Linked DNA regions of Homo sapiens: region 1 is linked to region 2. Evidence: fine-mapped expression QTL. Tissue or cell type: whole blood. Region 2 holds a variant in brackets; the other region holds the start of a gene. All regions are shown on one strand. Distances are from middle to middle.

The links. PIP is the estimated chance that this variant, and not a neighbour inherited with it, causes the effect.
Region 1: it holds the start of ZNF154, and the variant in region 2 is fine-mapped to the expression of ZNF154 in whole blood (INTERVAL, PIP above 0.99).

The regions. Positions count from the first base shown.
Region 1 is chr19:57,706,876-57,711,993 of GRCh38, reverse strand. It overlaps ZNF154 (zinc finger protein 154), which reads left to right and starts at 2,790. Exons shown (of 3, transcript NM_001085384.3): 1 at 2,790-3,055. The coding sequence starts at 3,023. RefSeq lists enhancers at 2,610-2,669, 2,690-2,819, 2,563-3,202.
Region 2 is chr19:57,656,715-57,661,923 of GRCh38, reverse strand. It overlaps a transcript of ZSCAN4 not described here. Among named protein-coding and RNA genes, the nearest start is that of ZSCAN4, 9.6 kb to the left of the region's middle. The variant G/A (reference allele first, on the strand shown) is at 2,233.

The DNA of each region.
Region 1 (5,118 bases), 50 kb before region 2:
TTTGCAGATGTAAATATAGATGTAGAAATAAATTTGTATAGAAATGTGTGCAAGTGGCCGGGCACGGTGGCTCACGCCTGTAATCCCAGCACTTTGGGAAGCCGAGGCGGGCGGATCACGAGGTCAGGAGATCGAGACCATCCTGGCTAACACGGTGAAACTCTGTCTCTACTAAAAATATACAAAAAATTAGCCGGGCGTGGTGGCAGGCGCCCGTAGTCCCAGCTACTCAGGAGCCTGAGGCAGGAGAATGGCGTGAACCTCGGAGGCTGAGCTTGCAGTGAGCCGAGATCGTGCCACTGCACTCCAGCCTGGGCGACAGAGCAAGACTCTGTCTCAAAAAAAAAAAAAAAAATGTGTGCGTGCATGTGTATGTATCTGCTTTCTCTCCAAGAGGACCTAATAATCAATGATTTACCAGTAGAAAAGAGCACAGCTAATGCTTACTAATATTTACAAGCATTGTTATCTATTGAAGAAAACCAGAGCTCCTTGAAAAAGAGGCTGATTCTGGGGCTGGGATAGCAAGGGTACAACATGAGCCTGAAAATATTTTTGGATTAGAAAGTAATGAAATTATCAATAATATTGACATAAAAAAGCAGAGAGCACAGCTTTAATGAGTTCCCACTGTCCAAACATCTGGGAGAATCTGAACATTAAAATAAATGTTGGGGCCGGACGCAGTGGCTCACGCCTGTAATTCCAGCACCTCGAGAGGCCGAGGTGGGTGGATCATGAGGTCAGGAGTTCAAGACTAGCCTGGCCAAGATGGTGAAACCCTGTCTCTACTAAAAATACAAAAAATTAGCTAGGCATGGTGGTGGGCAACTGTAGTCCCAGCTACTCGGGAGGCTGAGGCAGGAGAATGGCGTGAACCTGGGAGGCGGAGCTTGCAGTGAGCCGAGATCGCGCCACTGCACTCCAACCTGGGTGACAGAGCAAGATTCCATCTCAAAAAAAAAAAAAAAAAAAAAAGTACATTACCTTGCTGAGAATTAAAAAGAAAATTTTATATTCGAGTGCTATTTATTTTGCGGCTCCAAAACTTTATAACAAAGCAGCAGAGATTTCTCGGCCAGGCTCGGTGGCTCATGCCTGTAATCCCAGCACTTTGGGAAGCCGAGATGCGTGGATCACCTGAGGTCAGTGGTTCGAGACCAGCCTGGCCAACATGGTGAAACCCCGTCTCTTCTAAAAATACAAAAATTAGCTGGGTGTCATGGCGTGCGCCTGTAGTCCCAGCTACTTGGGAGGCTGAGGCAAGATAATCGCTTGAACCCAGGAGGTGGAGAGGTTGCAGTGAAACAAGACTGCGTCATTGCACTCCAGCCTGGGCAATAAGAGTGAAACTCCATCTCAAAAAAAAAGAAAAAAAAAAAAGAAGAGATTTCTCACCTATATACCCTGAGTGTCTCTGCAGCCAGCAAAGCAGATGAAGGCCTGCTGGGTTGGAGCCCTAGGCCCTCCAATGCTGAAATGCCCTGTGAAGTCTCCATCCATCCAGGCACTCTAGTAACCTGCTTCTTCTGCCTGGAATTTATTCTAAAAATACCCACATGGCTCATTTCTCACTTCCTTCAAGTGCATTTCACCGGCTTTCTGATTAAGAAGTCCCACCTCTCCCCTTTGTCTCTTATCAAAGTAGCATTTCTTTCATTGTTTTTTGAGATTGATGTTAGACTTCTAGAAGGAATATATCTCAGATATCAAGTAAGAATTATGAAATGGATAAAAGCGTTGCTCAGTGAATTGGACACAGTTATTGACTGGACACAGTAATTGGACACAATAATTGACTATGCAGGCAAAAGATGTTTTCTGTTGGAATCAGACAGAATTCTACCTTTGTACTACTGTTTCAAGGTGATCTAACATTTCTCTTCTATCTTCTAGAAGCACTATCATGCCACTATCTGAAGTAGTTTTTCACCTGTCCCTGACCAAAAGTGCACAGACTGACTTCAATGCTTCGGAGTGCATACATTTGAAATGTAATATGATAGAGGCTGGGTACGGTGGCTTACGCCTGTAATCCCAGCACTTTGAGAGGCCGAGGCGGGCAGATCACCTGGGGCCAGGAATTTGGGACCACCATAGTGAAACCCTGTCTCTACTGAAAATACAAAAAATTAGCCTGGCGTGGTGGCGCGCGCCTATAGTCCCAGCTACTTGGAAGGTTGAGGCACGAGAATCGATTAACCCGGGAGGCGGAGGTTGCAGTGATCCCAGATGGCGCCGCTGCACTCCAGCCTGGGGGACAGAGGGAAACTTTGTCTTAAAAAAAAAAAAAAAGGAATAAACTTATATGGTAATGTTTATTAGCTTCCCTACTAGTGGATATATTTCGTGTCTGAATGGCTCTATGGAATGATGTACATATTTGGATTGGCAGCCTTAGGGAGCGTCTGATAATAATTTTAGCCTCTGGGAGCCTGCTGAACTTTATGAAGTTTGAAATAATATTCCCCAAACACTTGGGTGATCAGTTGCAGATGGCACCTCTAATATGCTGTCTGATTACGACCCATTTAAGAAAGGGCGAAGTCCCTCCACTGCCCTAGGACTTGGATAAGCCATTTCTCATCGCCCAGCGCCCTGGAGCTTCGCTTTTACTCCAAGAGGTTGGTGCAAAGGGTCCCCGGCACCCACCTCGGGATCTATGAAAACTACATTACCTAGAATGCTCTGCGTTGAACGCCACGCTACTAAGCCAGTAAGAGCTCAGAAAACCGACTTTCCTTGAGAGTCACAAAAAGAAAGGACGGGACTTTTGGGGGGGCCTCTTCGTGGCGGCCATTTTAGCTTCTCTGAGGTGTGTTCACCGGATCAGAGATAGCAGAGCGCCGAGTTGGGGCCACGAAGGCGTGAGGGGAGTCGTCGTCCCTCCTGCACGAAAGCGTCTAAGCCTTGGCGACGCCGCCCTGGGGGACCCACGTCAGGCCTGGGATAGGGACCGCTGTCCCCGGGTCCCTACCAATGTCGCCCGTCGCTCCCGGCCCAGCTCTACCCGCAGAGTCTGATGGCAGCGGCCACTCTGAGGACGCCAACTCAGGTGAGTGCGGCGTCTTCCCGTCCTCACACACCTTCCCCCACCCACGTTCTAAAGCCATCAGTGAGGGGCGCCTGCTCGAGTCCCCGCTGCCCAGGGTCGGGGACACTGAGGCGTTCGTGGGTGGGGCCCTTTTTTTGACACTGCGTGTGACGAGGTGTGGGAGAGCGTGACAGGCGGAGGAACCGGCGCGTGCAAAGGTTGAGGCGCGACTGAGCCAGGAGAATTCGGAAAGCTGTTTTCTGCAGGGAACGAAGAATATGAGGCGGAGTTACTCCTAGGGTTGTACTGTCATTGTGAGGATGCTAGAAGCCACGGAGAGTTCTGAACAAAGGAGGGACGCCATTTATGTTAGTTTTTTTTTCTTTGAGACGGAGTTTCGCTCTTATCGCCCAGGCTGGAGTGCAATGACGCGATCTCGGGTCACTGCAACCTCCGACTCCCGGGTTCAAGCGATTCTCCTGCCTCAGCCTCCCCAGCAGCTGGGATTACAAGCCTGCAGCTGGGATTACAACGTCCGGCTAATTTTTTGTATTTTTAGTAGAGACGGGATTTCACCATTTTGGCCAGACTGGTCTGGAACTCCTGACAAGTGATCCTCCTGCCTCGGCCTCCCAAAGTGCTGGGATTACAGGCGTGAGCCACCGTGCCCGCCCTATGTTAGGGTTTAAAAACTTTTCCAAAGACTGTTCACAGGAAGAGCAGCGATGGGGCGATGAGGACATTGAGATAGTGGGAGGCTACATCTTTTTTTCATTGCCCTACAGTTGGCAAGAGGTGACAGCACTGAGACCAGAAAGTAAAACAGCCAGCCTGAGTTCAGGGCCAGGCAGGGCTACAGGGAGGCTTGAGCTCATCTAGCCTCACCAGGGATGCATTCCTCTTTCCCTGGTTCTCCCAGTTGTAGAAGGGCGTATGGAACTCACATAGGGAAGTGGAGAGTGTTCGGTCCCTCAGTAGCCTCTACCCCCATGTTCTTGGGATTGTGGTTTCCTAGTATTCTTAAGTGCTGTTACCCCAATCCTGGGTCTGGTGCCCTGGAGAAATTCCAAGCCCAGGGCTCTTAAGTCCATGCCAGAGGTTACAGGGGTTATACTGAGGTGTTCCCATTTTTGTCAGCCAGTGGAAACTTGTGAAAGGTTATCTCTGGCACTGGTATCAGGAGGCGCAAGTGCTTAGTAAAACTAAGCTGAGATTTTTGAGGAAACCATAGATCTGTTTCCTTTTAGCTGGGAACAAAGAGCAGGGGGAAGGAGTCAGGACTGCAGTGGCTGCCTGAGAAGTTGGGTACCTATTCTGGAGGTAATGAGAGATTTGGGTTACAAGAGGGAGGTGATCTTACCAAAGTCCTAACAGGGTCCATCCCGTTAGCGTGGAGAGCAGACTGTGGGGTTGAGGGAAGAGGAAAGAAGATCAGAGTGGAAGCTACAGCCAGTCCAGGGTAATGGACCAGAGTCATTGATTAGGAGATGTGTTGCATTCTGGATGCAAATTTTTAAAGGGAGCAACTAAATTTTCTGATGTAGACAGCGAGGGAGTGAAACAGGATTCAGCGATGACCCCATGGTTCTTCAACTGAGATGGAGAAGTTGGTATTAACAGTAATATTCACTGGAGACAACAGGAGCTTTATTTGGTCATGTAAGAGTTTGAGATGTTTCAGAGACATTAAGTAGGCATTAAGTAGGTGGCTGAACACCCAGGTCTGGAAATCTGGGGAGTGCTTCAGAATGGAGACATCCAAAATGTGGTGGTCATTGTGTGGACTAAGGTGAGTGAGCTGTGGATTACATTTAGAAGGGTTGTTCTATTTTTTTTTTTTTTTTTTGAGATGGAGTGTCTCTCTTGTTGCCCAGGCCAGAGTGCAATGGCGCGAGCTTGGCTCACCACAACCTCCGCCTCCCGGCTTCAAGCAATTCTCCTGCCTCAGCCTCCCGAGTAGCTGGGATTACAGGCATGCGCCACCACGCCCGGCTAATTTTGTATTTATTTAGTAGAGACAGGGTTTCTCCATGTTGGTCAGGCTAGTCTTGAACTCCCAACCTCAGGTGATCCACCCGCCTCAG
Region 2 (5,209 bases):
TTTTTAGTAGAGACGGGTTTTATCATGTTGGCCAGGCTGGTCTTGAACTCCTGACCTCAGATTTTCTGCCCACCTCAGCCTCCCAAAGTGCTGGGGTTACAGGCGTGAGCCACCGCGCCCAGCATGGTAGTTCTTTAAAGTAAGCTAAAACACTTAAAGATGTCAAAATTCTGAGTACAGAATATTCACAGACTTGTATTTATACAGGTCTACTTTTATCACTCACTTTTACCTCAATAGCATTTTTAAAGAATCTCTAATTTTTGTTTCTGGCACATTTTATTTAGGCTTTATAAAAATAAAAAGTTTTCCTTTTTGTGATTATAGTTTAGTAGTTTTTATTACAGTAAACCACTTATGCCATTGAATAAATAGAGCAAATGGCATTACTTTTGGGAGGAGAAAACTCCCTGTTGATAAATATATACATCAACCTGTGGAGACAGACGTGTTGGAGTTGAAAGCATTGATTCTACCAGTAACAATCATGTGTGATTTATGGTCACTGATTAGCACGTTACATGAAGGGAATATGGAGAAAGAATTTACTCAGCAGTAAGTCAAGCAGAGGTGAGTTAAGGGAGATCTTGCAAAATTTATGTAAATTAATGGAAATCTATCTGGAAGGATCCTCACCACTTGTAGACAGTGTTCCTTCCTTAGGTTGAGGTTGTGGAAGAAGGAGGGGTATAGTGTGTCCCAGTGAGTATTCACCATAGACACATACGTTTATTCCAAATATTCATTAAAATATTTTAATATTAAGAGAAGTTATGAAATTACTGGTAAAATAAAAATATAGGGGATCAATGAATCAAAAGAGGAGAATAACTGGAAAACTTTTGGAAGAGAAATCTTAAAATGAATTTAAGTAACAAAATGTAGGTCAGTAGACATAGTGTGGGCATGAATAAAGTTTCTCTAAAGTCCAAACACTGTTGCTGTGGTTATCAATCACACCAATTCTTCAAAAATCGTAGTAACTAGTAAGGAAGGCTCAATTTTATCCTGATCTGAAGGATTCTGTGTAGACAGAAGAGGAATCTACACTGGGGGCCAGGGGAGGTAAAAATGCCCTTCACTCACAGCCTCTAGTCAACACTTTTGTTTGCTAAAAATCCACTTAAACTAGGCAAGGAAGGGAGGAGGGAGGCAGAATAACAGAGGAGACAGGAACAGAGAAGCAATTCAGAAACTTTGAGGATAGAGAAGAGTACTGTGAGTACATGAGAATGAGAATGTCAAGACACTTTTAGAAATATAATTATCTGTTTGCAGGGTGAGATACTTAGGAATTTTTAAGCTCCATGAATTTTTCATGGCTGAAACTCACAACCCTCCTCTACTCCCCCATATTTATCTGTAAGTAAAATTTGCATTATTATAAATTGGATAATTGAGACTCATTTAAACGGTAGAAAAATGTTCAGAGTCTTCTGCTGATGACAGAATGTGGAGACATTACAGATTCCAGTTTGCACAACCTGCTGTTTCACAGAAGAAATGCACATATCAGCACCTCTCTCACAGACACCAGGTATCTGCACAGTACCAAGAGCTTACCATTGTCATCTAACTGTTCTTAACATGTCTGTAGCATCAAGTCTTTATCTGTGGCATATAGACAGGATGCTATGTGTGTCTAGTTTTCTCAGCAAATGACCTTCCTGCTATATAAACTCTTTCGTGTTCCAAACCCAGAAATGTTTTACAGAGAACAATTAATACTGAATTTTCTGAGATAGTTTCCATCTAAGGACCTGAAACTTACTTGAAAAGCATGAGTTACTCACTTGGCATCTGGTGTCAGAATGATGGAGTGACGGCATCTGTACAGGTGTGGAAAGGACATCTGAACCTGAGATAAAGATTTGGAACTCCCTGATCTCACCTTTTTGCTGGGAAGTGGTTATCACTTCACCTGTAATTGCAGCGACCATCTGTAAGGAGAATGGAGGTTATTTGCGAAGAACATTTGAGTATTGTGTATATTACTGAAACTATTAATGGTGAATCATAAAGATATCTAATAGGAATGACAGAAGTAGCTGAGGAGCACCCTATGTAGGAAAAAATGAAAAAGTAAAAATAAAATTGATCTGTAGGGTAGGTAAGCAGAGGACAGCAAGATCTAAGGAGAAAGAGAATGAAGGTGAGAATATGGCTCTGCTGGATTCCTGGCCGCTTTGAAGGTTTTGGTAGCAGAATATAGAGCTGTGTGTGAGTTTTTTA[G/A]TCATCCCATAGAACAAAGGTAACTTGAAGGTAGAGACAGTGAATGAATTAGACAGAATTTCTGGAGAGGTAAAAATGAATAGGAAATTGGTATGTCATATTTCTTCAGTGTTTCAAAAACTATTTATTGAGACCAGGTGCAGCGGCTCCCACTTGCAATACCAGCACTTTGGGAGGCAGAAGCAGGAGGATCCTTTGAACCCAAGAGTTTTGAGAGTTCGAGGCTGCTGTTAGCTGTGATCATGCCACTGAACTCCAGCCTGGACAACATAGCAAGGCTCTGCCCCTCAAAAAAAATTATTGCATATTTTTTGTGGGTCAGGTCATTTTTTCATTATATGGGGTATATCAACACACAAAATTAAAAAGAAAATTGCCTACATGGAACTTAGACTTAGTTGATAGAAACAGACAGTAAGCAGTAAGCAAAGCACCCATGTTATTCGGCTGATAGTGTATTAGAAAATGATGGGTCCTATAGAGCAGGATACAGCTGAGAAGTAAAGTTGGTAAGGATGGGGTGAAACAGTAAATCAGGTGTTCATAGTAGGACTTACAGTGAAAATGACATTTAAGATATATTTTAAGGGGGCGAGGAACTTAGCTTTCTTTCTTCTTTACAGATTATATATTTCTTGTCTCACCTAATTGCATGAGACAGGACTTTCAATATAATTGACTATATGTGCAGACAGTGACCATCCTCCTTTGGTTTCTGGTCCCGAAAATATTTTAATAATGGACCATGAGTTATTGTATTTACTCTAGGATTTTGCAGATGTTCTTTATAAGATTAAGGAAGAGTATTTTTGAGAGCAATTTGGGAATATATTACTTCTTTTTTTTTTTTTTTTTTTTGAGACACAGTCTCACTCTGCTGCCCAGGCTGGAGTGCAATGGCATGATATTGGTACACTGCAACTTCTGTCTTCTGGGTTCAAGTGATTCTCCTGCCTCAGCCTCCCAAGTAGCTGGGATTACAGGCACGTGCCACCATGCCTAGCTAATTTTTGCCTTTTTAGTAGGGACGGGGTTTCGCCATGTTGGCCAAGCTAGTCTTGAACTCCTGATCTCAGGTGATCTACCTGCCTCGGCCTCCCAAAGTGCTGGGATTACAGGCCTGAGCCACTGCACCCGGCAGGAAGTATATTACTTCTTGAGCCGTGAATATTTTTGGTGTGTATTATTATTTTCCTTAAACAAATTTAGTGCAGTATAATACAAATAGGATGATCCCCAATTTCCAGTGTATAATTTGATGAGTGCTGACAAATATAAACAGCATGTAACCACTACCACAATCCTGATAGAGAAGGTTCTCCTCACCCTATGTACTCTTCTGCCCTTTGCAGTCCGCCCCTTCCTCCTAGGCCCAGATCTGAGGATCACTCATTTGCATTTTGCCACTTGAGTTTTACCATTTCTAGATTTTTATCTGAAAGAAATTTTACTCTGTATAGACCTCTGAGTTTGGTTCCTTCACTTGTGCTTTTGAGATTCAGATTAATGTTTTTTTCCCTCCTTGACATTTATGAGGAATATTCTATTTATAAATGTAACACAGTTACCCATTCAGATGTGCATAGACATTTGTTTTTGTTTTCCAGTCTTTAGCTTTGAAGAAAATTGTTGATAACACGCAAAATCAGTTGGCTTTCTATATCCATGGGTTCTGCATCTATAGATTCAACCCACTGCAAATTGAATATTTGGAAGAAAAATTGCATCTGTACTGAACATGCACAGACCTTTTTTGGGTCATTACTCCCTAAACAATACAACTATTGTGTAGCAGCTATTTAAACAGCATTTACACTGTATTAGGTGACAATGTATAGCAACTATTTAAACAGCATTTGCATTGTATTAGGTATTATAAGTAATTTAAATTATAATTTAAATTATGTGGGAGGATATACACAGGTTATATGCAAATACCACATCATATTATATAAGAGACTAGAACATCTTCAGGTTTTGGTATCCTTGGGGGTCCTGGAATCAGTCCCCCATGGATACTGAGGAATGATTATACAAGTATTTCTATGGACACGTTTCCATCTCTTGAGGTTATACTTAGGAATGAGATTAATTTATCAAATGATAAGTGGACAACTAACTTTAATAACGGCTACAGTGTTTTCCAAATTTATTTATTTTGCATTTCCACCAGCAATGTATGAGAGCTCCAGTTTATTTCATACCTTCAACAGCTAGGTGTGATCATTCGGTTAATGTTACTCATCAAAATGAGTATGTAGTGGTATCTCATTGTGGTTTTCATTTGTAGTTCCTTAAATAGTAATAATTCTGAACTTATTTTCATGCATTTATATACCATTCATATATCATCTTTAGTGAAAAATGTGTTCAAATATTTTGCCTTTTTTTTTTTTTTGACATGGAGTCTAGCTCTGTTGCAGACAGACGGAGGGCAGACGGAGTTTCACTCTTGTTGCCCAGGCTGGAGTACAGTGGCGCGATCTCAGCTGACTGCAACCTCTGCCTCCCGGGTTCAAGCAATTCTCCTGCCTCAGCCTCTTGAGTAGCTGGGATTACAGGTGCCTGCCACCACTCCTGGACACTCCCGGATAATTTTTGTATTTTTACTAGAGACGAGGTTTCACCATGTTGGCCAGGCTGATGTTGAACTCCTGTCCTCAAGTGATCCGCCTTCCTCAGCCCCCCAAAGCGTTGGAATTACAGCTATGATATCTCACCCTGTTGCCCAGGCTGGAGTGCAGTGATTTGATCATAGCTCACTGAAGCTTCGACCTCCCTGGAATCAGTGATCCTTCCATCTCAGCCTCCCAAGTAGCTGGGGCCACAGGCACACACCACCATGCCCAGCTTATTAGCTAATTTTTGTAGAAACAGTGTTTTGCCATGTTGCCCAGGCTGGTCTTGAACTTTTGCCTATTTTTAAATTGTGTTGTTTATGCTATTTGTAGGGATGTTTTACGTATTCTGAATACTC